Homo sapiens: one gene and its partners. The protein of the gene in region 2 purifies or fractionates together with the protein of the main gene of each other region. This does not show direct contact. Each region holds a gene or a part of one and is shown on either strand. Other genes may lie near its edges.

Region 1 (4,530 bases), 6.9 Mb from region 2:
CTCCTCGGCAGCCTGCAGACAGTGAGCTGTGGGGTAGGAGAATAAGAGGGGAGGGAGATGCAGAGAAGGAGCAAGCCAGCGGGTGAAACAGAGGAGCAAGCCAGGAGTGCAGAGAAGCGCAAAGTCAGGGGAAAGCATGCCAGGAGGGGCAAAAGAGAAAGAAATGAGAGACAGACACACAGAGAGAGAAGAGGTAAGGAATACACAGAGGAAGAAGAAAGAGGAGACATGGTGAGCTAGATGTGAGAACAAAATCATAACATGTACAAATTTACAAGTATTTATGGAGTGCACTCTGTACTAGACACAATAGAAAACTACAATAGAAGGGAAAAGATATTGTGAAAACAAGTATCCCAGTGCTTGCTTCTGTCCCAGCGTCCCTCAGGCTTGTCCCTCTGTGCGTCTCCTCCGCCTTGGTCTCCTTCCTGCCCCATACCCAAAGCCCTTCTCTGTCATCATAGATACTTCATCATGGGAACTGCAATAATAAATTCCCTGCCCCCACAATTCTCTGGAGCCCCAGAGTCATGTGATTCCCATCTTTCATCCTTCGAGTTGGAAAATCCCTCTTAGACCAACTACATGCTACAGTAACACTTAGAGGAAAAAATATAAAGCATAAAAGCATGTATTTTACAAAATATATGTTTCTAATACAAATTTAGTTACCATATTGAAGAGGCGTTTGGGAGAGTCAGACATGATATAATGAGGGTTTGTACTTTAATGACAGGGATGTGTTCTGAGAAATGTGTCGTTAGATGGTTTCATCGTTGTATGAACATCATAGAGTGTACTTACACAAACCTAGATGTCATAGCCTACTGCACACCTAGGCCATGTAGTTTAGCCTATTGCTCCTAGGCTACAAATCTGTACAACATATAACTGCACCTAACACTGTGGGCGACTGTAACACAGAAGTAAGTATTTGTGTATCTAAACATAGAAAAGGTACAGTAAAAATATGGTATTATAATCTTGTGGGTCCACCATCTTATATGTGGCCCATCATTGACCTAAACTTCGTTATGCAGTGCACGACTGTAGTTTCAGCAGAAAGCAGCCAGGATGGAATGAAGGCACAATGAAATGGTTTTCGAGGGTACTCTAAATTAAGTATGACCATAAAAATAGAGACAATCAGGCCGGCTGGGATTTGGGTAAGGTGAGTGCACACCTCCTTAAACTTTGCACCCCAGGTGCCTCGCTCACCTCATCCCAGTCCCAGCCTTATCAAACAGTTTGTTTGTTTGAGTATGTCTAGAAAGAGAAAGGAAAGCAAGTGAAGGGAAAAGAGTAATGATTCTGGAAAGAAAGGTGATAAGCCTCAGAGTAAGATCTTCAGGGACTGGCAAGATGAGCTGGGAAAGAAGAGTGAAAGGGAGAAGCATACCCATCCTGAGGGAGTGACCCTGGAGAGATACTTTGGAGACAGACTTAGGGGTAGGAGGTAGGAGGCAGAAAGAAATGGAATTTCATGGACCTAGGAATGTTGAGAGACAACTGAGAGACATTCCATCTGAGACTTAAATTCCTTTTGTACTACCTTCACTCATAACTTGTTCCTATAATAAGATCAGATAAACTTTGAAGATATTGGATGAATATGAACGAAGGAAGAAATGAATGGATAGATGAAACAGAATGGTGACTACATTCACCATATTTTAGTTTAAGTATTTTTGTGTTTTGCGCCTGAAAGGGCCTAGAAATGGAGTTAGGGAAGTGAAGACCCCTATAAAGATTTGGGGCTAGCAAATGGACCCAGCTGCCCACCACCTACCTGCCAAAGGAGAAGAGGCACATGAAGAAGATGGCACTGGCAAAGGCATGGGGGTCAAAATCACCTCCCAGGATGTCAATCACACGACCAGAATAGTGAGGGATTAATGTCTCACCTGAAAGAGGCATGAAAAATAACACAAGAATGTGCTGGTGCCCAGGCCCTTTTACCACCTCCAACTCACAACGTCCTCTCCTGACTCACCCAAAACAGCAAGGACAAGGAAGAAGAAGGCGGCAACGAGGAGAGGCAGGTCCGGCCTGGAGAGCTTCAGCAGCCTCCACATCAAGACTTTGTTGTTCACCTGGTCCTGCTCCTTCTCCTGGGCTCCAGGAGGGCTCAGAACAGCCCACAGTGACCAGCTGAGCCCCGCAGCCCCGTACCCCACCAGCAGCCAGCTCCAAGGGGCTGAAGCGACTCTGGCTGGGGGAGCACGTGAGGCCCCCGCGACCAGGGCTCTCAGGGAGACAGTCAGGGGGGTGGCCAGACAGAGCGGGAGCAGCAGTGTCCCCACAAATCCCAGCAGCCCTCTTAGCTTTAGCAGCCCCCACAGCCCTCCCAGCCGCAGGGTCCCCTCCAGCCATAGTCCTGGCAGCCCTTGAGGAAGCAAAGTCCCCAGAGGGCCCTGAAGCAGCCACAGTAAAGCCGCGTCCACCAGCAGCAGGGAGGTCCAGGGTCTCAGGTCAGGGAGCCGCATGGCTCTGTCAACGGATACGAGATGAGAAATCATGGGGGTGGAGTCCCAATCCTTGTCCCTGCCCTCCTACCCGCCCGGCTCCGCCTAACCCGTCCATCGGCTTCTCATTTTATCCTATTCAACCCTGAGAGCTCTCCTGAGTAACCGGTGCTCATCCGTACACCCCTCCTACGACAGACAGCTTTCGGCCTTCTGGGGAGCTGGAAGCATGACCATCAGGAGCCTCGTGCTTAAAAAAAAAAAAAAAAAATCCCCGGACCCCCACCCCCACCCCCGCCTGCCGCGGCGAGCTAAGTGGTCCGGGCTCCGCTCCCTCCTATCGCCGGGTGCAGAGGGACTGGGAAGCAGGAGCGTGGAGTGGGTAGTCACTTGGGCTGCGTCCCTGTTGGCGCTCCAGGTTCCCCTCCGCACCAACTCACCAGCCGCGGCGGGGAGACCGCAGCTCCGGGGACTTCTGCTTCAGCGCTGAGGTCCGCTCCGTCTCTCCCAACCTCGCTACCGGCTCTGGTCCGCCAGCTACGCTCGGCCAGGGCGGGCGTCAGGGCTCGGGCAGCTTTCGCTTTCGCTTCCCCAGCCAAGGCCTTCATTCTGGGCTGGGCCGCCGGGAGGGGGCGCGCGAGACCCGCAGACAGCGGAACTGGAGCCCGAACTCTGGTTCGCACTGTACAGGCCTGCAATGAGTCTCACTCGCCTTTAGTGGCGGTTACTCTGGGATATAAAACTGCAAAAATGTTTCTTTATCATTAAGTAAAATACAGTTGTCTCAAGGGCAACTTTATCTGTTGTCCTTGCTTTGTAATTGGAGAATGCTTTGTAATTGGAGAATCACTGAATTTTCTCAAAGTTACTACTTCAAGCTCTGAGCCTACTATTAAGAAGTGCCTTCTTTCTGGTCCGGCGCGGTGGCTCACGCCTGTAATCACAGCACTTTGGGAGGCCGAGGCGGGCGGATCGCCTGAGGTCAGGGGTTCGAGACCAGCCTGGCCAACATGGTGAAACCCTGTCTCTACTAAAAATACAAAAATTAGCCAGGGCGTGGTGGCGGACGCCTGTAATCCCAGCTACTCGGGAGGCTGAGGCAGGGGAATCGCTTGAACTCAGGAGGCAGAGGTTTCAGTGAGCCGAGATCGGGTCATTGCACTCCAGCCTGGGCGACAAGAGTGAGACTTCGTCTAAAAAAAAAAAAAGTGCCCTCTTCCATGCAAGCTCCAGTTTTAGGCGAGCGAGCCGGGCTCTCCTAAATAGAAGGTTCCAACCAATCTCACCAGGCCAAAGGGGATTTTCACGTACAGACTTTGAATTTAGTAGGCCCTGAGCGTTCATCTTCATCCGTCCTTCTCAGCCGGAGCACCTTGAGCTGGCGCGTGTTCAGGTGCCTCTGAGTCTGTACTCCAAATTATGTTGGGCGCACCTTCAGCCTATGAGGGAAATGCCCCGTACTGAGCTTTGGTTCTTGTTCTATTTTAACACTGTTTAGAACAGTAATTAGGTTTTTAAATATCCTTCCTGACCCAGAGCCTTCCTATGCAACAGAAAGATTCGTTTATTCCAGAAAGGACTCTTCAGATTGAAACCACCTCCCAAACTAAAAACAAACAAACAAACAAATTCCCCAAAGGAAGGGTCGCTTGGATTCCAGATCACCATTTTGAAATGTTACCTGTGTGACTACCAAGGAGTCACTTAAAGTTTAAAATAGTGGTGGTGGGGAGGAGGGATTTTAAGTAGGGGCTCGCTAAAGTTTTACAACTCTATTCATTCTGGCATTTTAAGAATCTCTCTCTAATGAAAAAAGCTCCATGCTCAAGCTCATGCTCCTACTTTCAAGCATTTGTTTCCTTTATTTTCTGGAAAGTGACATGGTCCATAGTTCCAGCATGATTCCGAAAATCTCATGATGTGTGTCTCTTTCTTCTAACCTGGATCTTTTACATTTTCCCCACACTCCTCACTTAGGGGAGTCCTCCTGATCTCTTCTTCCTCTAAAATTATAGTCCTGCCATCTTGCAATTCAGCATGACACATCATGAAATTAGACCCTTAA
Region 2 (4,420 bases):
TGTTTTGTACAATGGACCCAAATGGAGGCCCAATTGCTAGTAAGATCAGGTCAGCACCAGGACAGATACTGGTTGTTGCTCTGCCTTAGAAGGCCTCCAAGTCTTGCTAACATCTGGATATCAGGAGTTCAGCTCATTGCTCTACACTCAGATCCTAGCTGAAGTCATCTGTGGTCAAACCCAGAGTTTGGACCATTTTCTATTTGATTTCACTTTTTATGCAAGATCCCGTGGCTTGGCTGAAGGCAACTCTTTAACTGTACATGCAGCTGCAATTACTTACACTCCACTTAAAGCTTTCCCACCAACTTCTCCAATCTTATAAACACTGAAAGCTGAAAGAGACTCAGAGATCCTCTGGCCCAACTGTTTATTTTATTGATAAGAAAATTTGCGTAGAAAATTTGAAAAGTTGCCTGAAACCACATGATGCACAGAGCCAGCACCAGATCCCCTAATGCCTAGACTACTGCTTGTTCTACCTATTACAACTTCCCCTTTGTTTTCGTAATATTTTAATCACAAGCTTAAAACTCAATGGGGTAGCTCCATTTTGAGGTATTATAAAGGAGAATTTGTATATTTTAAATCAAGTTTTAATCATTTATTCTAGAAGGAAGTTTGATAATGAAAAATACTTTTAGGTTGAGCTTTGAATATTAAACATAAACACAACAAAACTACTTCTCCTTGCTCTTTATGTTACTGGAATTGTATCACAAACCCATCACTTTAGTTTTTCTTCCCATTCTCTGTTGCTGTCTAACGAGAAAGGATGAAAAGCCCTACTTAAGTTTTATGGTTTCAAATGCTACTTTGATTTTGTATCAATAGGTAATTTCAGTTCTTCGTTTCCTATTTTCCTTTGCATGAGACGAATGCAGAAATCAGGCTAACATACCAAACCATCCTAAACTGAGGTCTTTCATGGTAATGGGAAATGTTTTTCCAAAATAAGCACAGAAGCTAATAAAATTATGGAGGCTGAACACTGGCATGGTTGATATGTACTTAGAGACACTGGAATAATTATTAACCTATTTGCAAACAATTGAGAACATGTAACAGTGTCAGAACCCTTCCCTTTAAGGAGATATACCTCTAAAAAAAAATTGTGAATTCTAGTGCCAAAGTTGTAAGTAGACACAGAAAAATGAATTGAAATTAAGTTAAAGGAAAATGTTATATTAAAAAAAATTACTTGACACAGTATAGGTTGAATTTGAGAAAAAAATAAATAATGTAAATATTATGGTATACGCATAAGCAAAAAAACAGGTTTTTCCCTTTTTTTAAGTCTAGAACTCATGATTTTATTATAATGGTCGTTAGATTGCTCTTAGATTCTCCTAATATCCAGCCTGTCTTGCTTCATCTCTGTTAGCCCAGAGTCCTAGTTTACTCAGAGTAAATGTTACACCTAGATCAAAGAGCATGAACCTGCAGTGGGAGGATATTCAAGGACTGAATTCTGCTCTGCCATTCCCAAATTGAGTAAACCAGGTAAAGTTTCAAAAACTCTTAGGGCTTTCACTGTTTCATAGGAAGAATTGGGATAATGTTACTTCACTGGGCAGTTTGGAGTGAAAACAAAAGTATGAGACATGCCTCGTAAATTGCAAAGTGTTATATGTTGTATAATATTCTAGATACTAGCAACAGCAATAATAATAAACAGTCACAATATTGGCAGTCTAGCCCTCTCAGATCCATAAATACAGGCCTACAGCAAATGAAATGTATTTCTATAAAAGTGCCTTTGATTGGTTGTTAAATTGGTTTTAAATGTTTCTTTTTTAAAGTGGATTCTTCTGGCCTGGAATCCTCAAGATGAGTGGGGAGGAGTTCACCAGAAAACATAGAAGCAATTCCTTCAGTGTTAGAAAAACTGAGGGCCCTCTCATCATCTGCCTATCTTTCTGAGAAATTGGTGCTGACCACAATGTCCCTGGGTGCCTTTTCTTAGCTGTACAATGAGGGCAACAAGCTAGGTGATCTCTACAAGCGTACAATTTTCTTGCCTTCAGTCTTATTCATAACTTTGGTCATGTTCTCCTTTTCTTTTATTATTATTATTTTTTTGAGACAGAGTCTTACTCTGTCACCTAGGCTGGAGTGCAGTGGTATGATCTCAACTACTGCAACCTCTACGTCCTGGGTTCAAGCAATTCTCCTGCCTCAGCCTTCTGAATAGCTGGCACGCGCACTATGCATGCGCATAGGTGCACGCGCCGCTACGCCCTGCTAATTTTTGTATTTTTAGTGGAGACAGGGTTTCACCATGTTGGCCAGGCTGGTCTCAAACTCCTGACCTCAAGTGATCTGCCCGCCTCAGCCTGCCAAAGTGCTGGGATTACAGGCGTGAGCCACCAGGCCCGGCCATGTTCTCCTTTTCCTGAGAGACCATTTCAAATTCATATAGAAGTCTGAAAAGACTCGTTAGCCACAGTCCCAAACACAAATCTTGTCAGTTCTGATCAGTATTTCATTCCACAGCCAATCCCAGTCTGACTAATCACAGCATCACAGTTAATACTCACAGCGTCCTTGGAGAAATGACCATTGTCCACAGTGTCCATTGGTACCAGTGGCTTCTCAAGCCTTGCCCTAGGGTCTTCATTGAATCAGTTATCTTTTTCAGAGAGTCTCTTCATTTTGGAATTAGGCAATATTACCAGATGGAGATCCTTATGTTGCTGTTAATGTCTTTTCTCTGACTTCTCCTAAAACTGTTCCCTCCCCTTAATGGACCTTTGGTAAGTTAGTAATAATCCTTCTACCCAAAAAGAAGAAAAGCACTTACCTTCACCATTAAACCAGTATTTTAAGCCCTAGACTATAAGGCTAACTTGGAAAAGGAGGGAGTTTTCTGTCCCTTCTTCCCTTTCAAATACTTTTGCAGATTTTTACAGGGATAAATAGTGAGCCACGTGGCAGTCAGACGGCAACAGGTTTGGCCCCACTTTCTCAGAAAGCCTCGGCTTGGTTTTGCCGCTTAATTTTTAACTTCATTTTCAAGTTCTCACTGTTAGAGTATCTCAAAAGATGTCATCGTGTGTTTCTGCTTTGAACTGTGCATACAACCATTCAGTCAACAAGCCTTTTTTTCTGAAAGCAAGGGGGCATGGTGTGGAGGAAAGGGCAGGGCTCCTGAAATCAGTGATGGAGTCAGACCCATATTCACTTCCTAGTGTTTTCCCTGAGCTTGGACAAGTCACTGAACCTCTTTGAATTGGCTTCCGCTTTAGTAAAGCAAGGATTGTGTTACTGTACTCATGGGGTTATTGAACAAATGAAATACATATTCTAATTGGTAGTAGCTCCTCAATAAATGAGGTGTTCATTCCTCTTCAGGAGTTCAGTTAAGTCAGCTAGATTTTCCATATGCATTTGGTGCCCACAGCCTAATGAATGTGAACTGTGACTGCCCTGGCAACTTCCCAGGAAGCTGCCTTGTACCCCTCCTTCCTGTTTCATATCATCCATGTCTTCCCTAATCCATTTTCTGCTTGGCTCCCGACTCTTGGAATTGTGTCCTATTTGTAATCATTAATTTTGAGACTGTGGTTGCTATTGGATCTTCCTAGTGTGACGCAACCCTTATAAAATGAAATGAGAGCCTTCCCTCTCTGGCTTATCAGCTTCAGACTTCCTTAATTGAGTTCCGCCATCCTAGTGAGTCTCACCATACTCCCGAAATAACCTGCTGGAGTAGGCTTATCCTACTCAACTCCTCAGATCTCTGTATTTAATTCTATTTTATTGCTGTTGTAGTAAATTACCACAACTGTGATGGCTTGAAACAACACAAAATTATTTATTTATTTACAATTCTAAAGGTCAGAAGTCCAAAATGGGTTTCACTGAGCCAAAATCAAGGTATTGGCAAGGTTGTGCCCCCTCCAGAGGCTTTAGGGGAAAATCCATTTCTTTTTCTTTTCAGCTTGTAGTGACCACTGCATTTTTTGGCTCTTGGCCTTTCCTCCACCTTAAAGCCAGCAGTGTAACATCTTGAAGTATTTTTCTCTTATTCTGACTCTTCTGCCTGTCTCTTATAAGGACCCTTGTGATTACACTAGGGCCCATCTGCAAAATTCAGGAAAATCTGCCCATCTCAAAATTCTTAACTTATTAAACATGTAAAGTCCCTTTTGTCATATAAGGTAATATATTTACAGGTTCTGGGGATTAGGACATGGATATCTTTGGAGGACAACATTCAGCCTACCCTTTTGAGGGATAGAGGGGTAGCAGGAAGAGTTGAAACAATTCCTTCCTTTCTTTATTTAAAAATTCTGGTTATTGATTTATTATAGTTATCATGTGCCTGATAAGCCAATGAAAATAGTTATAATGGCCAGGGGCAGTGGCTCATGCCTGTAATCCCAGGACTTTGGGAGGCTGAGGCAGGAGAATCGCA
Region 3 (3,771 bases), on a different chromosome or scaffold from region 2:
ACATAAAAAAGCCAATGATATGTTGAGAAAAAAATGCAGGATTCAATTTCACAAAAAGTGAAAAAAAAAACTATAAGTACATAGAAAAAAGCCACACTTATGCCAAAATTTTAAGAGTATTTATATCTACTGAAATTATGGATGCAGTTTTGGTTTTTTTTTCTCTACTTTCCACATTTTCTACCCTGAAAATATATTTTTGTAGTTGGGGAGGAAATACTATTTTGTAATCGATATTTCTAGACTATTTAATTTTCTTTCTTACGTTGTATTTTTCAAATTTTTTAACTTTTTTGTTTGTTTGTTTTTTGAGACAGAGTCTTGCTGCATCGTCCAGGCTGGAGTGCAGTGGCGTGATCCTGGCTCACTGCAAACACCACTTCTCAGGCTTAAGCAATCCTCCTACCTCAGCCTCCCAAGTAGCTGGGACTACAGGCATGAACCACCACATTCTCAGCTAATTTTTTTTTTTTAATTTTTTTGTGGAGATGAGGTCTCACTGTATTGCCTAGGCTTAAATTTTTTTTTTTTTTTTTTTTTTTTGAGATGGAATCTCCTCTGTTGCCCAGGCTGGAGTGCAGTGGCACATTCTCGGCTCACTGCAATCTCCACCTCCTGAATTCAAGCAATTCTTGTGTCTCAGCCTCCCAAGTAGCTGGGACTACAGGGGCACACCACCACACTTGGCTGATTTTTTTTTTTCTGATTTTTTGTAGAGATGAGGTCTCACTATATTGCCTAAGTTTAAATTTGTGTGTGTGTGTGTTTTAAGACGGAGTCTCACTCTGTCACCCAGGCTGGAGTGCAGTGGCACAATCTCGGCTCATTGTGACCTCCGCTTCCCAGGTTCAAGCGATTCTCCTGTCTCAGCCTCCCAAGTAGCTGGGACTACAGTTGCATGCCACCATGCCCAGCTAATTTTTTGTATTTTTTTAGTAGAGACGGGATTTCACCATGTTAGCCAGGATGGTCTCGATCTCCTGACCTCATGATCCACCTGCCTCGTCCTCCCAAAGTGCTGGGATTACAGGCTTAAGCCACCGTGCCTGGCCTCCCATTTCTTGATTTTAACTTTCATTGGTTGAAAAAGACAAACAGCTTTTTCTTTTTTTTTTTTCTTTAAATAAAGACAGGGTCTCACTATGTTGTCCAGGACGGTCCTGAACTCCTAACCTCAAGCAATCCTCTGCCTCAGCTTCCCAAAGTGCTGGGATTACTGGCGCGAGCCACCATGCCTGGTTAATAAACTGTTCTCACTTCAACATTACAAGTCCCAGAATTTTGGGATTCTCTATTTTCTTCTTTATTCCCACTTACAAATAGTCCAATTCTATTCTAAACCCAGATCTCTTTCCTGTAGTCAAATGCAGATGTTAATAACAAAGGCACTCTAGTAACATTCTGTTTTGCAATCTCATTACCTAAAATGATAGAAAAAAATAGTATTGTCAACTGTTCACAGGAAACAGTATTATCAAATGTTTTGTCATGATATAATATAGATCTTCATTTTTCCAGCTCCCAAATATAGTTTTCTTGCGGCCAGCCCCTCACCTAGATTTGTAGATTACCCACAGCTTTTATCTTGAGCAAATTTATATATAGGCCTCAACTTTTAGTGCAGAGCAAGCAATCTGAGAAAGCTGTTTAGCCCTTAAGGATGACACATTCTCCAAACCCATCTTTAGATATGGTTATAGAGGAAAATGGAAGAGAAAAGATCTCTAGAGTGTAAAATCAAGGACCATGGAAAACAATGAACTGGAAAACAATTCCCCAGGAACACAACTGGGGCATAAACACAACAGATTCCTTATCCCAGAGTAAGGGGATATCCTGTCCCTGTCCAACAGTGTATACTGAGAGTGGGGGGATGTGCAGAAAAGAGTTAACACAGCAGGCCTGAGACCGCTTTCCTGAGAAAGGCCTGCTTGCAGGCGGATCACCTGAGGTCAGGAGTTGACCAGCCTGGCCAACATGGTGAAACCCCGTTTCTACTAAAAATACAAAAATTAACCAAGTGTGGTGGCACATGCCTATAATCCCAGCTACTCGGGAGGCTGAGGCACAAGAATTGCTTGAACCCAGAAGATGGAGGTTGCAGTAAGCAGAGACCGCACCATGGCACTCCTGCCTGGGTGACAGGGTGAGACTCTGTCTCAAGAAAAAAAAAGAAAAAGAAAAAGGAAAAAAAGAAAGCCCTGCTTGCAAGGTAGGCTCTCTTGGCTGGCATCTAGGAACTTCAATTTCAGGAGAGTTCCCACCATTCTCTAACTGATAACAGTGCCTATCCTCTTTGTACAAACAATGTAGTTTATGCTTTCTTTCTGGGAGTCAAGAATTTTGGGACATGGTAGGCAGAGGATACCTACATGACCAGCCCCCAGTAAAAACCCTGAGCACTGAGTCACTAATGAGCTTCCCTGGTAGATAAAACTTTACAAATGTCACAATTTGATGCTGAAGGAATCAGGCCCATCCTGTGTGACTCTGTTGGAGTGGAAATTTGGAAGCCTATGCCTGGTTTCTTGCAGATTTCACCAAAATAGGCCTTTTCCCTTTGCTGATTTTGTTTTATATTATTTGCTATAATAAATCATAGCTGTAGGCTGGGCACGGTGGCTTATGCCTATAATCTCAGCACTTTGAGAGGTTGTGGCAGGTGGAACACTTGAGGTCAGGAGTTCAAGACCAGACTGGCCAACATGGTGAAACCCCGTCTCTACCAAAAATACAAAAATTAGCCAGGCGTGGTGGCATGTGCCTGTAGTTCCAGCTACTGAGGAGGCTGAGGCAGGACAATCGCTTGAACCCAGAAGGTGGAGGTTGCAGTGAGCTGAGATCGTGCCACTGCACTCCAGCCTGGGTGACAGAGCGAGACTCTGTCTCAAAAATCAATCAATCAATCAATCAATCAATCATAGCTGTAAATACAACTTCATTCTGAAACTTGTGAGTCCTTCCAGCTAATAACCAAACATGGGGGTGTTCTGGGGAACCCCCGACATAAAACAGATAACCTGTCTTTTTAGTTCATAGATCTCTGGATTAGAATGAGTCATAGCTGGCCCTGATGTAGATAAGCCTTTGGGTTCAAGATTAAGGCTGTGACTAGATAAGAGAGAGTTTTCGGGTGTGGGAAAAAGTAAGCGTATTTTGTCTGAGGGAGAGAAATAAATCACAAGGACAGGGTGTGGTAAACTATATTATTATTCACAACTATTTTCTCCTTCCCTTTAAAAATCTTATATATCCCTGCCCACTACCATGTGACCTGGAACACTTCCCTGTAATCAAAGTATACTTCACATCCCATCGTCTGAATTGATTATATGACTTGCTTTGGCCAATAAAAGGTGCGTACAAGTGATAGTGTGCCAGGTCAGCAGAAACTTTAAGAGACATTGCATGATTCTGCCTCCTCTTTTCCTACGTCACAAGAAAAATCTTTCCCAAATACGGACTATTCCTTCGCAACACATAAAACTACGACAGCCAAACTGCAGCCACAACATGTAATATTAATTAGAAATAAATGTTTGTCATAAGCCAGTGAGATTTGGGGGTTGTCCAAAACCTAGTGAAAGCTGAGCATATACTTAATCTCAAAATATGTATATTTAAAATATTGACATAAAATATACTTTCTAGTGTAAACTATTTTTGTAGTAGCACAAATTCCAAGTCTATCTAACTTACGTTTTGGAGCTCTTTCAGGAATTGGAATGTCACTGATTTTCTCTTCTTTGGCAGATTCCTTATTTTCTGAAG
Region 4 (3,771 bases), on a different chromosome or scaffold from region 2:
TGGACCTTTCAGTTCCCACTTTTTCAGGGGATTAACTAAGGCACCGTAAGATGCAACTCTCTAGAACCCTGTTTAAAGGCCCTGGGATTTAGTTGCCCCTAGGAAACCAGCCTTGTCTGGTTCCCTCTTCCCATAGGGTCAGTGTTCACAGCACTGTGAGGCAAGGTCAAGAGCAGAGGTGATGTGAAAGTTTCTTGTTCTCTCTACCTTTGGGCCCATCTCCCTGGGTCCAGCTACTCTGTGTCATTGGCTCCAGGGACCAGCGCATCAGCCAGGACGTGGAGCGATTCTGCCGGCAGCTCAGCAGCATGGCCAGCAAGCTCATCATCTCCCCGTTCACCCTCGTCTACTACACTTACCAGTGCTTCCAAAGGTGAAGCCTCCCTCCTCCCCAGCCTGGTGTTTCCCCAGAGGGCCCTCAGTCAGCTCTCCCAGGTCAAGGTCCAAGAGAAGCTTATTTCCCCTCTCTCCCACCGTACCTTACCACGTGCTCACCCATCCCACGTGCTCAGGCCCCTGCCCTTCCTTTGGCCCTGTGTTGCAGTGTCACAGATATCCTGGCTCTGAGAGCTCATACCAGATGCCCCCACATAGGAGCAGAGGGCCCATTGGGCCACTCAGATTGGACAGGGGCTACCTGAGAGGGAACAGGAGTCAGGGCTGAGGCATGTGGGGATAGGTGGCACCCCACACCCTCTCCCTTCTCTCCCTCTCTCTCTATTTCAGCACAGGCTGGCTCGGGCCTGTGAGCATCTTCGGGTATTTCATCCTGGGGACCGTGGTGAACAAAACTTTGATGGGCCCCATTGTGATGAAGCTGGTGCATCAGGAGAAGCTGGAGGGAGATTTTAGGTGTGTCTCCCTCACTTGAGGTTTCTGGGCTGGGGCATAATAGTTAAGGAAGGGGATCTGGAGTAAAACTGCCTAAGTTCAAATCCTAGCTGTGCCAGTTACTAGCTGTGTGATCTTGGAGAGGTCTTTAACCTCTCCAAGCTTCAATGTTCTTGTCTCTAAAGTGGAAATGGTACCGTTGCCTACTGAGAGGATTAGGAGGATTAATGAAATCATACCTGAGAAGGTCTGAGAACCGTGTCTGCCTGGCCATCACCATCGTCATTGTCATCTCTTGGCCTTCTCACTGCCCTGGCATAACCGCCCTGTCTTGGATCAGTTGGGTGTGGCAGCCAATGGATCCAGTGCCTGCCCTGTGCTTCTTGTCCCCCTCCTTTGGGCCAGGCCCTGGGAGGAGGAGATGCTGTGAGCAGGAATACCCCTGTCCTCTCTGCAGAAAGCTGAGGGGCAGCCCTGTCTCTGCAGAGCTCCTGCCACACCACCTAGCCCTGGGGTTTTCTACCCCATAACAGTCCAGGAAAGGGTCAGACTGAGGCAGCCACGGTTTTGAGGCAGAGCCGGGCTCCGCTTGGGCGGTCTTTGTGATCCAGGACTCCAACAAGAGTGAGGCCAGTACTCCCTGTTGTCAGCACACATTTCCCTTTGGTCCGCCCAGGTTCAAGCACATGCAGATTCGGGTGAATGCGGAGCCTGCTGCTTTCTACAGGTGAGTCTGGAGAGATGGTTCCCCTTCTGCCTTGCCAGAGCTGAGAGTGGAGAAGGAAAGATGAATCCTCAACCCTCCCACCACCACCGAGCTCAGGGGCTGAGTGTTGTCACACTTGGCTGTGACCCTCTCCCTCTACCTCCCCCTGCCCTTGCCTGCCTCATCCTTAGGTCCAGGGGTTTGCTTCTGAAGCTGGTGGTTCCTTACTGTGGCCAGCTTTAGTCTTAGTGGCCTAGCGTGGGGCCTGAAATTGTCAAATGAATGAATGCCTCATCCTCTTGCTGGTGACTGTAAGACATCCGTCTGCCTCTGCTCTTCTGTCTGTTAAGAAGCTTTCTTGCCAGTGCCTGAGGTTCAAGCCTGATCCTTTGTCTCCGTAGCGTGGGATGGAATGGGAGCTTCTCAGAAAACCAGGAGACCTGCTCCCCACAATGCTGTCTAATGGAGCCAAGCGTCTGGTCTCCTGACGGCAGCAGCAGGAGCAGCAGCAGCGGCATGAAATCCCATCCCTTCCCTCCAGGGCCAGAACCGGTCCCTGTGCTCTGCCTTATGTGAGGCCTCTGAAATCAGCGTTAGGATTGATAGTGCAGGCAGAGGTTTGCGTTTAAGAAGTGGAAGCTACTCCTTGGCTCTGTACTTGGGGTGGATGTGATAGCCCTGGGACCTTTGCTCCTCAGTCTCTGCTGCAGTTTGCAACCTCCACCACTTGAGGGCACCAAGAATACTGGGAATCTGCGCTGGGGTGGGGTTGTGAGGTGGGCAGGGCTGGGTGTGTAAAAAAGTTGCTTTTGGAGGCCGGGCATGGTGGCTCATGCCTGTAATCCCAGCACTTTGGGAGGCCGAGGCGGGTGGATTGCCTGAGGTCAAGAGTTCGAGACCAGCCATGGCCAACATGGTGAAACCCTGTCTCTACTAAAAATACAAAAAATTAGCTGAGCATGGTGGCGGGCACCTGTAATCCCAGCTACTGGGGAGGCTGAGGCAGGAGAATCACTTGAATCCGGGAGGCAGAGGTTGCAGTAAGGCAAGATCCTGCCATTGCACTCCAGCCTGGGTGACAGAGCAAGACTCCGTCTCAAAAAAAAAAAAAGAAAAAAGTTGCTTTTGGATTCTGCAGCCTCTGCTCATGAAGCTCTGGGGAAGGCAGGTTAGTTTGTAGAGTTTCAGATGAGTTCTTCTGTGGCCTCTGTGCAAAATCTGAAATCTCCCTCCACCTTTTCTGCCTAGCGAATTTCTTCCCATCCTTGAAACCCCAGATCACCTCCTCTGGAGAGCCTTCCCAGACTCCCTTAATGGCTAAGCCTATCTGCTGCCATGGCCCTGAGGGCACACTTAGTACTCCTGATTCCAAGTGAAGAATGCAGTGTGCCTGCCTGCCCTCTGGACTGAGAGCTCCTCAAAGACAGAGATAATTTTCTCATTTCTTTATTGCACTAGCTAACTAGTGCAATGCCTGGTACACCTAGTGACCGCTCTGTGTATGTTTATTTAACAATAGTTTTTATTTATTGAGGGCTCCTTATGTGCTTGGCACTTTATATTTAGAAACTTTTAATTCTAACTCTAACCTATTACATAGGTATTATTGGCTCCATTTTATAGATTAAAAAAACTGAGGCTTGGAGGCTTAAGTAGCCTGCCTGTGTCACGCAGCTAGTAACTGGCCAGAGCCAGGATTTGAACTAGGTCTGCCCAACTCTAGAGTTTATGTTCTTCACACAGACAATACCATTAAGGCATGACTGAAGCCGTGAATGGGCGCTACCAGTAGACAGATCCTGAGACCAAGATCATTTGAATGGCCTTGGTTTCTAAAGGAGGGTGTGATATGGGACAGGCGGCCCCCCAACCTGGCTGAACCTCTCCAGCCCTGTGGACATCCCAGCCTTTCCTTGTCAGAGCTGGGCATGTGGAGCACATGAGGACAGACCGCAGGCTGCAGAGACTCCTTCAGACCCAGAGGGAGCTGATGTCCAAGGAGCTCTGGCTGTACAGTAGGCGAGGGGGCCCAGGGAAGTGGGAACCATGGGGTTGGACTGGTCTGCTTCCCTTCCCACACCTCTCTACCTCCTGTCTGCAAGGATAAATGTGCCATGATGAAGGAATTAACCGGGGATGAGGAGGGGGGGCTGTTGCCTTTCTGTGAGTATCCTCAGGAGAATGAGGATCCAGAGAGTCCACGTGGCCCTACTTGGCGTCCTGCTCCCTGTCTT
Region 5 (4,244 bases), on a different chromosome or scaffold from region 2:
GCAGACTGGACAAGGAACCTGTTCTGCTGGTCTAACACATTACTAAGTCCACTTTTCCAAAGAATAAAAATACAATTCTGTAACATGTAAGTCACAAGTCTAACAAACTAAACTATAAATTACCTAATGATAATTACAATATTAAGAAATTAACACTGGTATAGTCTTTACCTGGAATTTTTACAACCTAAATACAGCATGATGGATAAAAACTAAAACCACAATTTGGAATTAATTTGGAGGAAGAGGAAATGATAAATTTGTATTCCATACTGTAATTTTAATCCAGTGTATGACACACTGTAAAATTTGTCAAAAAGTTGAAAACAGTAAAGTCTGAGAACCAACCTATGTCTCCATAAAAGAAAAAATGATTAGTCAAGGATGAGTGAATTCTAGGACTGTAAACTTTACCAAATCTACCTTGTCTCCAGATACTAAAAACACAAACAGAATTAGGGAACTAAAATCATTCTGGTTTCCTGAACCCTTTAGGTTAAAAGGAACAATATTTCCTGACACCGGAAAATGGTGAGTAAGCCTTGCTTTCACAAGTCAGTGGGTGAGGCTATGGTTTTCAAACTTGGGTGGAATATTATTTTAAGAGTCTTTAAGGGAAATTTTTATCATTAAAAGATTACATTAGTTACAACACAGCATAAAACTAAATATATAAAGCAGTACAGGTCTCAAACTTTTAAATTTCAGAGTCCAAAAAATGTTATGATCTCCCCATTTTCTCTCTTCTCTCTCTTCCATCACCTCTTCCCAGTACCTCAAATAAAACCAAGCCAGCTGACACACACAAACTGGTTTAGGAAGCTAAAGGTCTGTAGCAGTCAACATGAGCCAGGAGTGGCTTGTGTGCTACCTGCTAACTCTAATCATCAGACTTTCCATCTAAAGCTCAGAGAGAATAAATTACATGGGAATCAGGCCCTAAAAGCCTTTTCAGAAGTCTTCCATTTGACAGAATAGCACATTAGGTCTACCCACCATCACCCTGAGTGGGCTTAGCTACTTGTGTCAAGGTCTCCATAAAAATACAGATTTCAAAAAAGAATTTTGCAATACACATTCGAAGTCTTGGAGGAAAGCTGCTAAGATACGACCAGTAACTACTCCATGAAACCAGTCTTAAAGCAGACTGAAATAGCCAATGATGGCTACAGAACACATATCCAACTCACTAAATTTTAAAATTTAGGATTCTGTGTGCTGAAAACGATTACATTCTTTGATATTCACTTTTAACCAAAATACCCATTTCATTTCTAAGAAGACAAAAATGAGGAAGTTAAAATATACATTTGCCTTCCTTCTTGTCATACACCTTCCCACATACCAAATTACTACTGCAAAGAGCCACTATGCTATTATTCCAAAGAGTTCCTAAGCATCTCACAAAGAGATGCCTTGGTTCCTGATGACTATTATAATCATAATTATATGATTATGATCTTCCAGATCCATAGATGGTCATCTTGGATAAAGAACCCAGTAATGAAAGTATGCTGCGGTCTGTGTTTCTACTTACCCTCGATGACATCCTGGGGGTGAGAAGTCCGGTCACTGGGTGGATCCAGTGCAACAGTTGCCAGCGAAGTGGTGGCCCCAGACATCTCACTCATAGGCTCACTCCGGCTTGTTTCAGGCACGCTTTCCCGGGAGCTAAATCTTACTCGGGAACTAGATCGAGAGCTGAGGTCCGGACTGGTGTCTGACAAACCTGGAATGTCATCGATCTTTGTCGGTGTCACCATGAACCGAACTGAAGCCATCTTGGTGGTGGTTTCTGGAGGATGCATTTTGTTCTTTTTAAGAACAAAAAAAGTGGGGGGAACCTCGCAAAATCTTCCTCTTACGCTAGCTACTTTTGACTGCAATACAAAAGATAACTTGAAAAATAACACATTTCAATAACCTTGATTCACACCACACAAAAAGCCCCAACTAAGAATACTTCTACTCAGAATTCAAGCCGACTGTCCTAGAAAGTGCATCACCAATAGGTGAATATATTTTTTAAGAGAGAAAAAAACAAAAAACAAAAAGACAAAACAATGCCAATCTTGTGTGACTTCTTTCCTTCAGAATGAAGAGCTACCTAGCTAACCCCTCTGGTCCGGGGCTGAAGGCTCAGTGCCATGGTCTCAGGGCAGCAGATGAAGCCTCCCTCCCCTCAGCCCCCAGTTTCCTGTCGAGGTAGTCCTTTATCTGGTGAGTGTCCCACGGTTCTAGTTGGGCGAAGTGCGTGCAGGCAAACCTTTATCAGGCGACTATAGCGTGGATCAGATTGCTAAAAGGTGTACACCCGGCCACCTGTTGTGTATCAGGTGAATACCCCACAGGTCTGGCTGGGGGGAGGTGTATGCAAAGCCACCCGGTGTTTTTGATGTCGACAATCCACTTGGGTCTGGTGGGAAAGGTGCACATGCATAACGGGAAAAATAACCCACACTACTGAGAGAAGGGTGAGCAGAGGAGGATGCAGGGGCAGAGCGGATTCCTGTCTCCGAGAGGTCGGTGGGGGTGGCGCGCCCGCTCTTCTCCTAGCAGAAAGGTCCTCGGGGTCTGGGAGGAGGTTAGCGGATCAAGACACCTCGGACTGCAGCTCAGAGTCGTGGCAAGTCGTAGCTAGTCCACTGAGCCACGGTCCGCTCGCTAGGTTTCTCCTGCGTGTGACAGGACGAGCCACCCCCTTTGCCGGAGGCGCGTTCTCCCCTACCCCCGCCCCGGCGCAGGTCACCCCCTCGTCGTTCTTCCTCAGGGTCCCAGTAGAGGAGGAGACGGCCACGCAGGCTGGCCTGACTGGGCAGCAGGGTGAGGGAGAAGGAGGTCGCAGGTGCAGTATCCCGGCGCCAGCTGATGCGGGTGCGCGCGCAGCTGTTGTTTACTAGCCGGTAACTGTTTCAGAGCCGCGGCGCGCGCAGGGTTCGCGCTGCCGGGGCTGGCGCCCCCTCCCCGGCCCGACGCCAGAGCAGCAGTTACGTGACCTGGCCTCCCCCAGCCCCGGGCCCGACGGGGTGCGCCCGCGCCGCCGCAGCCCTTCCCTTCCCTCCCCGCTTGTTCCTCATTCGAGGTGAACCTTGCGAAGAGAAGCCCGGGGGTGCAGTGAGAGGGCGGAACCGTCCCGCGGGCGCCCGAAAGCCCCGCCCAGCCGCCGCAGCCCGCGGTGACCGAGTGCAGCGCGCCTGCGCTCGCCGCGGGACACGGCAGGCGGGGCGGGGCCGAATACGAGTGGCCAGGGGCACGACGGGAGCTGTAGTCCAGGGCACGGCCCGACCCGCGTGAAGAGGGGAATAATCCTTTTCCTCGGTCCGGCTGTGCTGCACACTCACTCTGGAAGCATCCTAGAGGGCGGGCGCTGCTCCTCACCCTCAGAACCCGGGGAGCCATTTCTCTTTCATGAGTGTCTCTGAAAACATCATTCATGATTTCTTTAACCAGAAACACCGCTCCTATACCTGGGAATAACCCTCATTGTAATTTTTATGTAGAGGTCTACATACAAATAAACCACTTTTATGTAAAAAAAAAAAATTAAAACTATAAAGTAGGCCTGGCGCGGTGGTTCACGACTGTAATCCTAGCACTTTGGGAGGCTGAGGCGGGCGTGATCGATCACCTGAGCTCAGGAGTTCCAGACCAGCCTGGCCAGCATAGCGAAACCCCGTCTCTACCAAAAATTCAAAAATTAGCCGGGCGTGGTGGCGTGTGCCTGTAATCCCAGCTATTCCTTAGACTGAGGCAGGAGAATCGCTTGAGCTTGGGAGGCGGAGGTTGCAGTGAGCCGAGAACGCACCATTGCATTCCAGCCTGGGGGGACAAGAGCAAAACTCCGTCTCAAAGAAATAAATAAATAAAAATAAAACTATAAAGTACCTTAAACACATTTGTCCTACTTTAATTTTTTGTTGTTGTTCTTGTCCTTTTAATAAATGCTATGTCCACTTTCTAGTCAGACTGAAAGTTCCACTAAATAATACGTTTTTTTATACCTGGAGAAGACGTTGATGTATTTTCTCAAATCCATTCCATGTTTTCACCACTACATTTGTCGCTAGAATATTTTTTCTTAGTGTTTATTTAATGTATAAATGGTGGTGTTCGATAAATTCTGACTCACCAATGTTTTGTTTGAAAAGCTATTTCCTATAGCTGTGATCAAGACCTCTAAATTTAACAATCACCTGGGCCCAGAAACTGGCCCCCGGTTTTGCCTGGGGTCTTGGCTCCTCACA
Region 6 (3,771 bases), on a different chromosome or scaffold from region 2:
TATATGCACACATCAAGCTATTGTGTGTGTGTGTGTCTGTTTACGTGAATAAAAGCTGCATCAATGGCTACTCAGATATATTTCTCCAAGTTGTTCTTCCTAGGTAGTAGCATTTGGGATAATTTTTATTTTATTATTTACTTTTTTTAATTTGATTTTTAATGAGTGGGTATTTTTTATAATCAGAAAAAAAGTGGCTCTATATTTGTAAAATAGTATAGAAGCCTCACATTTTCAACAGCAAATGTAAAATACACACTTCAGTTAAAGCCAAATTTCATATATATATGTGTATATATTTTTTGTTTTTTGTTTTTTTTTTCTTGAGACGGAGTCTCATTCTGCTGCCCAGGCTGGAGTGCAGTGGCGCAATCTCGGCTCACTGCAACCTCCGCCTCCTGGGTTCAAGCGATTCTCCTGCCTCAGCCTCCCGAGTAGCTGGGACTACAGGGGCATGCCACCACGCCCAGCTAAGTTTTTGTATTTTTAGTAGAGACAGGGTTTCACCGTGTTAGCCAGGATGGTCTCGATCTCCTGACCTTGTGATCCGCCCGCCTCGGCCTCCAAAAGTGCTGGGATTACAGGTGTGAGCCACCGCGCCCGGCTACCAAATGGCATTTTTTAACTATATGATACAAGATATTTTGCTTTTCTTCACCAGATTAAAAGCATGCCAACCTTATATAAAAGCTACCTAGATTTAAAATGTGGTTTGTTCTGAGGAAAGGTCACATACTCAACAGTATGTGAAATAAAAGGATCCGTACATAAGCATATCATCTTCCATCCCGCACCTATCCAGGAGACTGCAAAGCTTCAGAGAGCTGGACAATGATAGACTCTTTAAGAGGGGAAGGAATCTTAGAGATCAGTTAAGCCCTCGCTATCATGTTACTCAGAAAGCCCTCGCTATCATGTTACTCAGACCCAAAGTCACACCACCGGTGTGGCAGAAGCAGAACTGGAATCCAATGCTCTTTGAACAACACCATGCCATCAGAAGACAACCTTTTGTTTTTTTCTTTTTGTGAACTTACCAGCCAATAAAGTCAAAGCCCATATTATGCCCTCATCATCAAAAAATAACACTAGCCTTGCTACAATCATGCAGGTGCATGCTGCAGCTCAATAATAACCTCAAGACCAATACAAGTGCTGGCATTGCCTGGATTCTGCTTTAAGCAATGAGAATCATGTAGGTAGAGGGAAGACAGGCTGCTGGGCTTTTTTAGTGCAAGCTGGTAAGCCTAGCCCCTTTAAGGCTCCAGGACATAAGATGCTCTTGGAGCTTTGAACACTGCAGTGACACGGTCCACAGTAAGAACCAGCTCTGCTCCTCTTGTGCCCATTTTCAGTCACTCTACACTTGTGCCAGCCGTTATGCCACAGTGCACATACAGGCCAGCTTACTTAAGCTGTCTCTTCTTTCTGTCCCTGAAGTTCCATCCAGGGGTGCTCTCTGCTCAGGAAATGTCTGTCCCCATATGGTAATCCCACCTGGGTAGGTCCACTCCTCAGGGAATTGCCTGTATAGTAAAACCTCTGGGGATCCCCTCTCTTTGGGTTATTCCTGCCCCTCTCTGTGTTTTTTCATGCAGCAGGGTTATGGATGTGACAGACTTTCATCTTGCAGTTCCCTGGCCAGGCTTGCTCCAGTCTCTCTTCTCTAATTAGCTGGCTCAATGACGTAAATATCAAGTGTAAGGTGTAAAGCGGTGGAAACAAGAAGCCTCATGGCAGCCTTGGCCTAAACTGAGTTCTGGAATCTACTTTTACCAGAGGGTCTTAATGGGAACTTGCTCTACCATTACCAAGCATACGAGATGAAAAAATGGAAACAAAATACCAGACAGGGACATGAAGGCTTTAAGTCTTCCTGCAGGTGTAGCACAAACCTTATGGTTCCAGTTGGGGCCAATCTAAAAACAATGATTTGACCATACAGACTTCCTGGGCACCAGAGGGTAGAATGATTTCTGTATTGCAGCCAATATCCTCCTTTGATCGGGACTCTCAGCCAGGACAGCAGCCAGGCTGATTATAAGGCACAGAGCAGCCAGGTTCCACACAGACCCTGGGGCGTGGGATTATGAGACAGCGATCCCAAATTGTGTTCTTTATCATGTGTCGAATTGCACACAGGGTCAAAGAGAGACCTACAAATAAGTTAAATTCATGTGGCTTTTACATTAACAACTGGATCACTGGCCCACAAGAGGTAAAGTCTGACCATTGTGGTCAAGATGTAGAGAAACACACTGTGAGTTCACCATGGAGAGGTCAGGGGAGTGTGTGGAGAGTGGGGAGTTATTTTAACAAGGATCAGGAAAAGAATAATGGATTCTTTATTCTGGGGATTATTCTTTTCCTGAATTTGGGTAAAGAAAAAAAAAGTCAATGGAATTATCACAAACTCAAAGGTTAAGAAGGAAATGCATAACACTGTCTTCAGGAATCACCTTATTCCAGATTCAAAGAGAAACAGGAACGAAAAGTATTCTCAGTTATGAAGCAGATTAGGAAACACTTCAGTAAGAGAAAAATGAAGGACCGCACTGCTCAAGCTGGAAGATGAGAGGAATCTCCATAGGACAAAAGTTGCAATTTTAATGGCCAGGCTAAAAGAGGGCCAGGCCAACTCCAGAGGACCCGAGATGCAGAGACACTACTTACCTACAGGCAGGCAGTTAATGGTGAGAGCAATTGTGGGAGCCTCCCTCCTTGTACCTAGGGCAGCTGCCTTGGGGAGTTACACAGATGTAGACAGACGTGAGAATGGAGAATCAGCCCCGCATACACCCATCCTTACTATAACAGTTTCTCAGTAACACAGATAACTTAGGGAAGCTGGTGAGGACCACTCCCTGAGGGAACTCCATGCCCTTAAGATTCCACAGGAAGGTACAGGAGAGGTGAGACACAGGATACTGAAGACAGTCCTGCCACAACAGCCCAGGCCGGATTAGATGCTGCACTAACCTCTGCACACAATCACTCAACTGAGTCTAGCCATGGAAGCACCAGTGAGGAAAACAAGAATATTTCCTCCTCTCACTCATGCCTCCATCTACTCTCATTACCCCAGATACTGCCAAGAGTTTGCTTGTTTTGGCTAGAATAATGTCAGAAATATACTGTGGCATCTCAGTAGAAATGCTCTAGAGGCTGTGAGGTGGCCCTGGGCTGAAGAAGTTCCCAAGACACAGACCTTTAAAACTGGGACAAGTTGATCACACTTGGTAAAGAGTAAAGGCCATTACTCTTTCCTCCAAAAGACCCAGGGACTGGAGTCAGCATCTGGCACTCTGTTTTTGAAAGATTCCCACTGCCAATTCATAGACTAATAAAAGAGATAATAAGCATGGATTACTCAGATCATGCTTTCTAGTCTGTAACTCCCAGAAGATTTAGAAATGGCATATAAAAGTAATTAAAAGGCACCTTATTAGTTATACGTCTTTTTTTTTTTCTTTGAGGCAGAGTCTCGCTCTGTCGCCCAGGCTGGAGTGCAGTGGAGCAATCTCTGCTCACTGCAAGCTCCGCCTCCCGGGTTCACGCCATTCTCCTGCCTCAGCCTCCCGAGTAGCTGGAACTACAGGCATCCGCCACCATGCTCGGCTAATTTTTTTTTGTATTTTTAGTGGAGACGGGGTTTCACCGTGTTAGCCAAGATGGTCTTGATCTCCTGACCTCGTGATCCGCCTGCCTCGGCCTCCCAAAGTGCTGGGATTACAGGCGTGAGCCACCGTGCCCAGCTATGGTTATACATCT
Region 7 (3,771 bases), on a different chromosome or scaffold from region 2:
TCCTCACACACACAAGACTGTGATGGAAGGTGTTTTTGGCCATGTATTAAAAGGCAATGTAGTCTTTTTCTTCCTAACACTAGTTTCAATTTCTTTTTAAAGTAGTATTTTATAAAATGAATACAAGCTGTTAATCTTGTCCCTGTTGAAAAGCACAAGTAACAATGCATTCACCCTTTACTTATTTGGATTATTTTGGTGCTTTTGTTACTGTTTCCATATTATACAGAGGTCACGGTCAATGTATATATTAGAGAAAACACAACTTAGCAGAAGCAGTGTTAGAAATGGAGGAAAAGAGGCCAGGCGAAATGATTCATGCCTGTAATCCCAGCACTTCAGGAGGCCAAGGCAGGAGGATCGCTTAAAGCCAGGAGTTTCACACCAACCTGGACAATAAAGCAAGACCCCATCTCTACAAAAAATTAAAAGATCAGCAAGGCATGGTGGCGTGTGCCTGTAGTCCCAGCTATTTGGGACTATATAGCTCACTACAGTGAGCTATATATAGTGAGCTATATGAAGTGCCACTGCACTCAGCCTGGGCAACAGAGTGAGACTTCATCTTCTAAAACAAACAAACAAAAAATTAAAAGAAATGGAGGAGAAAAGGCAACTGTGCCACCTCCTCACCACAGCAGTGTACACATCAGTTTAATAGTAGGTTAATGAAACTAGGCTTTTCAGTTTTCAAGAATAAATACTGACTCATATGCCACTACTCTAGTATATTTGCAACATAGCTATTTGTATGATCTGGCTGAGGCCCTAGTGATAAGTGCTGTGGTTATAATTACAAAAGATGATACAATAAAAATGCTTTCTGTAGCCTCTATAACCATTAACTCTTCCTAAGGAAAAAAAACAAAACAAAAACCCCACCAATCTCACTGGTTATGATTTTTCCAAACAAATTTCTCTTGCTAAATTGGCATAGAAGTTAAAATGGCTGGTTGGGCAAATGAAAGTAACTAAGTTTAGAGTTTTGGGCAAATAAAAAGAACTAAGTTTAGAGTTTTGGGCAAATAAAAAGAACTAAATTTAAGAGTTTTTCTGAGCTCTTCTTTCTAAGCTTTTCTAACTTCTTGAGTTCTTAACATTATGAATTTAAATCTACCAACAAAACAACATTTTTTAAAAGTTACAAGATTGGAGGAGGAAAGACCTTTATTGGAGCAAAAGTTTACCTGTTGCATCCTTTACTTTTTAAAATCTGTTGTAAAGAAAAATCTGGGCATACCTGAACAGAACATTGATTCTAAATGGTTAAAAAGGTTATCAATTGATTACACTACATTGTGAGGGTTTTATGAGTTACTTTGAAAGGTATTAAAAACTTTATAGATATAAGGAATTATTATTTATCGCTACTCACAGCTCTCTTCACTTGATAATTTACTGCTTAGTTAGAGATACTGGTTGGACATCTTAGAGACTGGGAATTTGGTTTCTAGAATTGTGTTAAAAAGAGCTTCCAAAGTATTTTGCATCACTTAATGAATTAACAGCAAAATCAAGGAAGTACCTTTTAAACAACTCTTCCAAGACCTAAATATTAGTAGTTATTTACTAACAGAAAAAAGTTTATTCATATTTATATTACTCTCCATAATGCTGATTATGGAATTCAGAAGAAATCCTGGTTGTTGAAATTCTAGGACTAGATATTTAAAAATTATCTGCAAGATGTAGCGTTTGTTATTTCTCATTTTTTCTGATATATCATTAGCATCCTACATAAGTGTGTACACATATTTGATTATTTTACAATTTTATTTTAGATTCCCTGCATCAACTAAGAAAAGCCTGTTTTCTTTATTTCAAACTTGGTGGCGAATGTGTTGCGGGTCCTGTTGGGCTGCTTTCTGTGTAAGTTGTGATGGCACAGAGGATACAAACCTGCCAGATTTTCTTAGGACTGTTCAGTTGATGAATTACTGCAAATCTTTCTTCCTTACACATTTTGATATTTTATTATCTGTTAGTATCCCAATGAGAAGGTGGCCCAAAGAAATGAAGAAACGCAATATTTAGTACTGTTTTCTTTCTAGGGAACAGCAGTTAAAGGTGGTGGTAGAGGAAGCTATAACCCTTGATTAAAATAGAAGCTTGTTTTTTGCCTATGGATTTATCCATATGTTCTGGTCTGTGGGAGCCAGGAATAATTGAGAAATTTTAATTTAAGAATTAGTTTCATTGAAGTACGGGGACTTATACAACCCAGTATTAGTTTTGAGCGTACAGACATATGTGGAACTATTCTTGGAAAGTCTACAAAGTGAAATCTATCGAGTTATTTCTCATTTGCAAAGTGATCCTTTGAGTCATTTCTCATAATCTATAATCTGAATGTTAATACTGATATTTTTAAAAGCCCTACATCCCAACAGACCAGGCCATCTAGATATTTCAGCGTGGTGTCTCAGGATGAGTAAACAAACAGCTAAAAATATATGACTTATGTAAACTAGAGTTACAGGAGTTACTAGCTTTTCTGAAAGGGATATATTCTAAGTATTTTTTCTTAAAAAAAAAAAAAGGGGGGTGGGGGGTTTGCTCCTGCCATCAAACTTAACATGCAGACATATTTGTGACGTCCTCTAAAATGTAGAATGTTTCATACAGAATTATGATGCTTGGGTAAAAAAAAGTAGGATGTTTGTTGAGCTTCGTAGATTATATGTAATTGGAACCTTTGGAGTAAATTTTAGTTTCTGAGTCTTACCAATATGTATTTTTTTCTATTACAGATTGTCTCCTAACCCTCTAGTTTTAATTGGACACTTCTTTGCTGTTGCAATCTATGCCGTGTATTTTTGCTTTAAGTCAGAACCTTGGATTACAAAACCTCGAGCCCTTCTCAGTAGTGGTGCTGTATTGTACAAAGCGTGTTCTGTAATATTTCCTCTAATTTACTCAGAAATGAAGTATATGGTTCATTAAGCTTAAAGGGGAACCATTTGTGAATGAATATTTGGAACTTACCAAGTCCTAAGAGACTTTTGGAAGAGGATATATATAGCATAGTACCATACCACTTATAAAGTGGAAACTCTTGGACCAAGATTTGGATTAATTTGTTTTTGAAGTTTTTTGTATATAAATATGTAAATACATGCTTTAATTTGCAATTTAAAATGAAGGGGTTAAATAAGTTAGACATTTAAAAGAAATGATTGTTACCATAAATTAGTGCTAATGCTGAGGAGAACTACAGTTTTTCTTTTGAATTTAGTATTTGAGATGAGTTGTTGGGACATGCAAATAAAATGAAGAATGAACTTTCGTGTCTTTTTGTTTCTTGTTGTGGGCTCGTTTACATAGCTTCATGATAATGAAAAAGAAAACCAAAGTGGGATGAAAAGTGCAGAGGGAAACCTGTTCTATTAAATAACTGGGGAAGTTGCCTTAATGTCTTGACCTTGATTTCCTCATCTATCCAGTGAAGCAATTTGATAAGGTTATTTTCTTTAAAAAAAATTACTTATTTATTTATTTATTTTATTTTGGGGCTGTGACTCAGATTTGAACCGAAAGGTTCTTTGCTGAGTTCTCTGAAAATATCAGATTCTGACAGGAAAGGCAATCAAGGGCTTTATAAGTTCCACTGTATAGCAACATTTATAAGGCAGCCCAGGATGACATCAAGAAACAGTGAGTGAACAAGTAAGCACTTGTAATACCCGGCATAATACCTTAAAATCCGTTAGGATTTACTGAGTTTATCTATAGTAAATTTGAAGAGACTATGGATGTTCAAAGGGTATCATC

What was found.
Region 1: the proteins of SLC17A2 (region 2) and TAP2 purify together in Homo sapiens (affinity purification with mass spectrometry; 2 studies listed by BioGRID and IntAct, with this or other methods). This does not show direct contact.
Region 3: the proteins of SLC17A2 (region 2) and DPY19L4 purify together in Homo sapiens (affinity purification with mass spectrometry; 2 studies listed by BioGRID and IntAct, with this or other methods). This does not show direct contact.
Region 4: the proteins of SLC17A2 (region 2) and ABCD4 purify together in Homo sapiens (affinity purification with mass spectrometry; 2 studies listed by BioGRID and IntAct, with this or other methods). This does not show direct contact.
Region 5: the proteins of SLC17A2 (region 2) and SLC12A6 purify together in Homo sapiens (affinity purification with mass spectrometry; 2 studies listed by BioGRID and IntAct, with this or other methods). This does not show direct contact.
Region 6: the proteins of SLC17A2 (region 2) and ANO10 purify together in Homo sapiens (affinity purification with mass spectrometry; 2 studies listed by BioGRID and IntAct, with this or other methods). This does not show direct contact.
Region 7: the proteins of SLC17A2 (region 2) and SQLE purify together in Homo sapiens (affinity purification with mass spectrometry; 2 studies listed by BioGRID and IntAct, with this or other methods). This does not show direct contact.

The regions. Positions count from the first base shown.
Region 1 is NC_000006.12:32,835,748-32,840,277, forward strand, and holds the start of TAP2 (antigen peptide transporter 2), read right to left. Parts: upstream 2,993-4,530; 5' UTR 2,906-2,992; intron 2,491-2,905; 5' UTR 2,487-2,490; coding exon 1,994-2,486; intron 1,905-1,993; coding exon 1,790-1,904; intron 27-1,789; coding exon 1-26. UniProt on the Homo sapiens protein: ABC transporter associated with antigen processing. In complex with TAP1 mediates unidirectional translocation of peptide antigens from cytosol to endoplasmic reticulum (ER) for loading onto MHC class I (MHCI) molecules.
Region 2 is NC_000006.12:25,927,737-25,932,156, forward strand, and holds the start of SLC17A2 (sodium-dependent phosphate transport protein 3), read right to left. Parts: upstream 2,956-4,420; 5' UTR 2,541-2,955; intron 1-2,540. UniProt on the Homo sapiens protein: Acts as a membrane potential-dependent organic anion transporter, the transport requires a low concentration of chloride ions. Mediates chloride-dependent transport of urate. Can actively transport inorganic phosphate into cells via Na(+) cotransport.
Region 3 is NC_000008.11:94,726,370-94,730,140, reverse strand, and holds part of DPY19L4 (probable C-mannosyltransferase DPY19L4), read right to left. Parts: coding exon 3,700-3,771; intron 1-3,699. UniProt on the Homo sapiens protein: Probable C-mannosyltransferase that mediates C-mannosylation of tryptophan residues on target proteins.
Region 4 is NC_000014.9:74,292,935-74,296,705, reverse strand, and holds part of ABCD4 (lysosomal cobalamin transporter ABCD4), read left to right. Parts: intron 1-256; coding exon 257-373; intron 374-726; coding exon 727-852; intron 853-1,507; coding exon 1,508-1,558; intron 1,559-3,457; coding exon 3,458-3,552; intron 3,553-3,771. UniProt on the Homo sapiens protein: Lysosomal membrane protein that transports cobalamin (Vitamin B12) from the lysosomal lumen to the cytosol in an ATP-dependent manner. Targeted by LMBRD1 lysosomal chaperone from the endoplasmic reticulum to the lysosomal membrane.
Region 5 is NC_000015.10:34,334,873-34,339,116, forward strand, and holds the start of SLC12A6 (solute carrier family 12 member 6), read right to left. Parts: upstream 2,910-4,244; 5' UTR 2,460-2,909; intron 2,145-2,459; exon of another isoform or gene 1,881-2,144; 5' UTR 1,809-1,880; coding exon 1,538-1,808; intron 1-1,537.
Region 6 is NC_000003.12:43,615,347-43,619,117, forward strand, and holds part of ANO10 (anoctamin-10), read right to left. Parts: intron 1-3,771. UniProt on the Homo sapiens protein: Does not exhibit calcium-activated chloride channel (CaCC) activity. Can inhibit the activity of ANO1.
Region 7 is NC_000008.11:125,019,003-125,022,773, forward strand, and holds the end of SQLE (squalene monooxygenase), read left to right. Parts: intron 1-1,781; coding exon 1,782-1,869; intron 1,870-2,750; coding exon 2,751-2,943; 3' UTR 2,944-3,281; downstream 3,282-3,771. UniProt on the Homo sapiens protein: Catalyzes the stereospecific oxidation of squalene to (S)-2,3-epoxysqualene, and is considered to be a rate-limiting enzyme in steroid biosynthesis.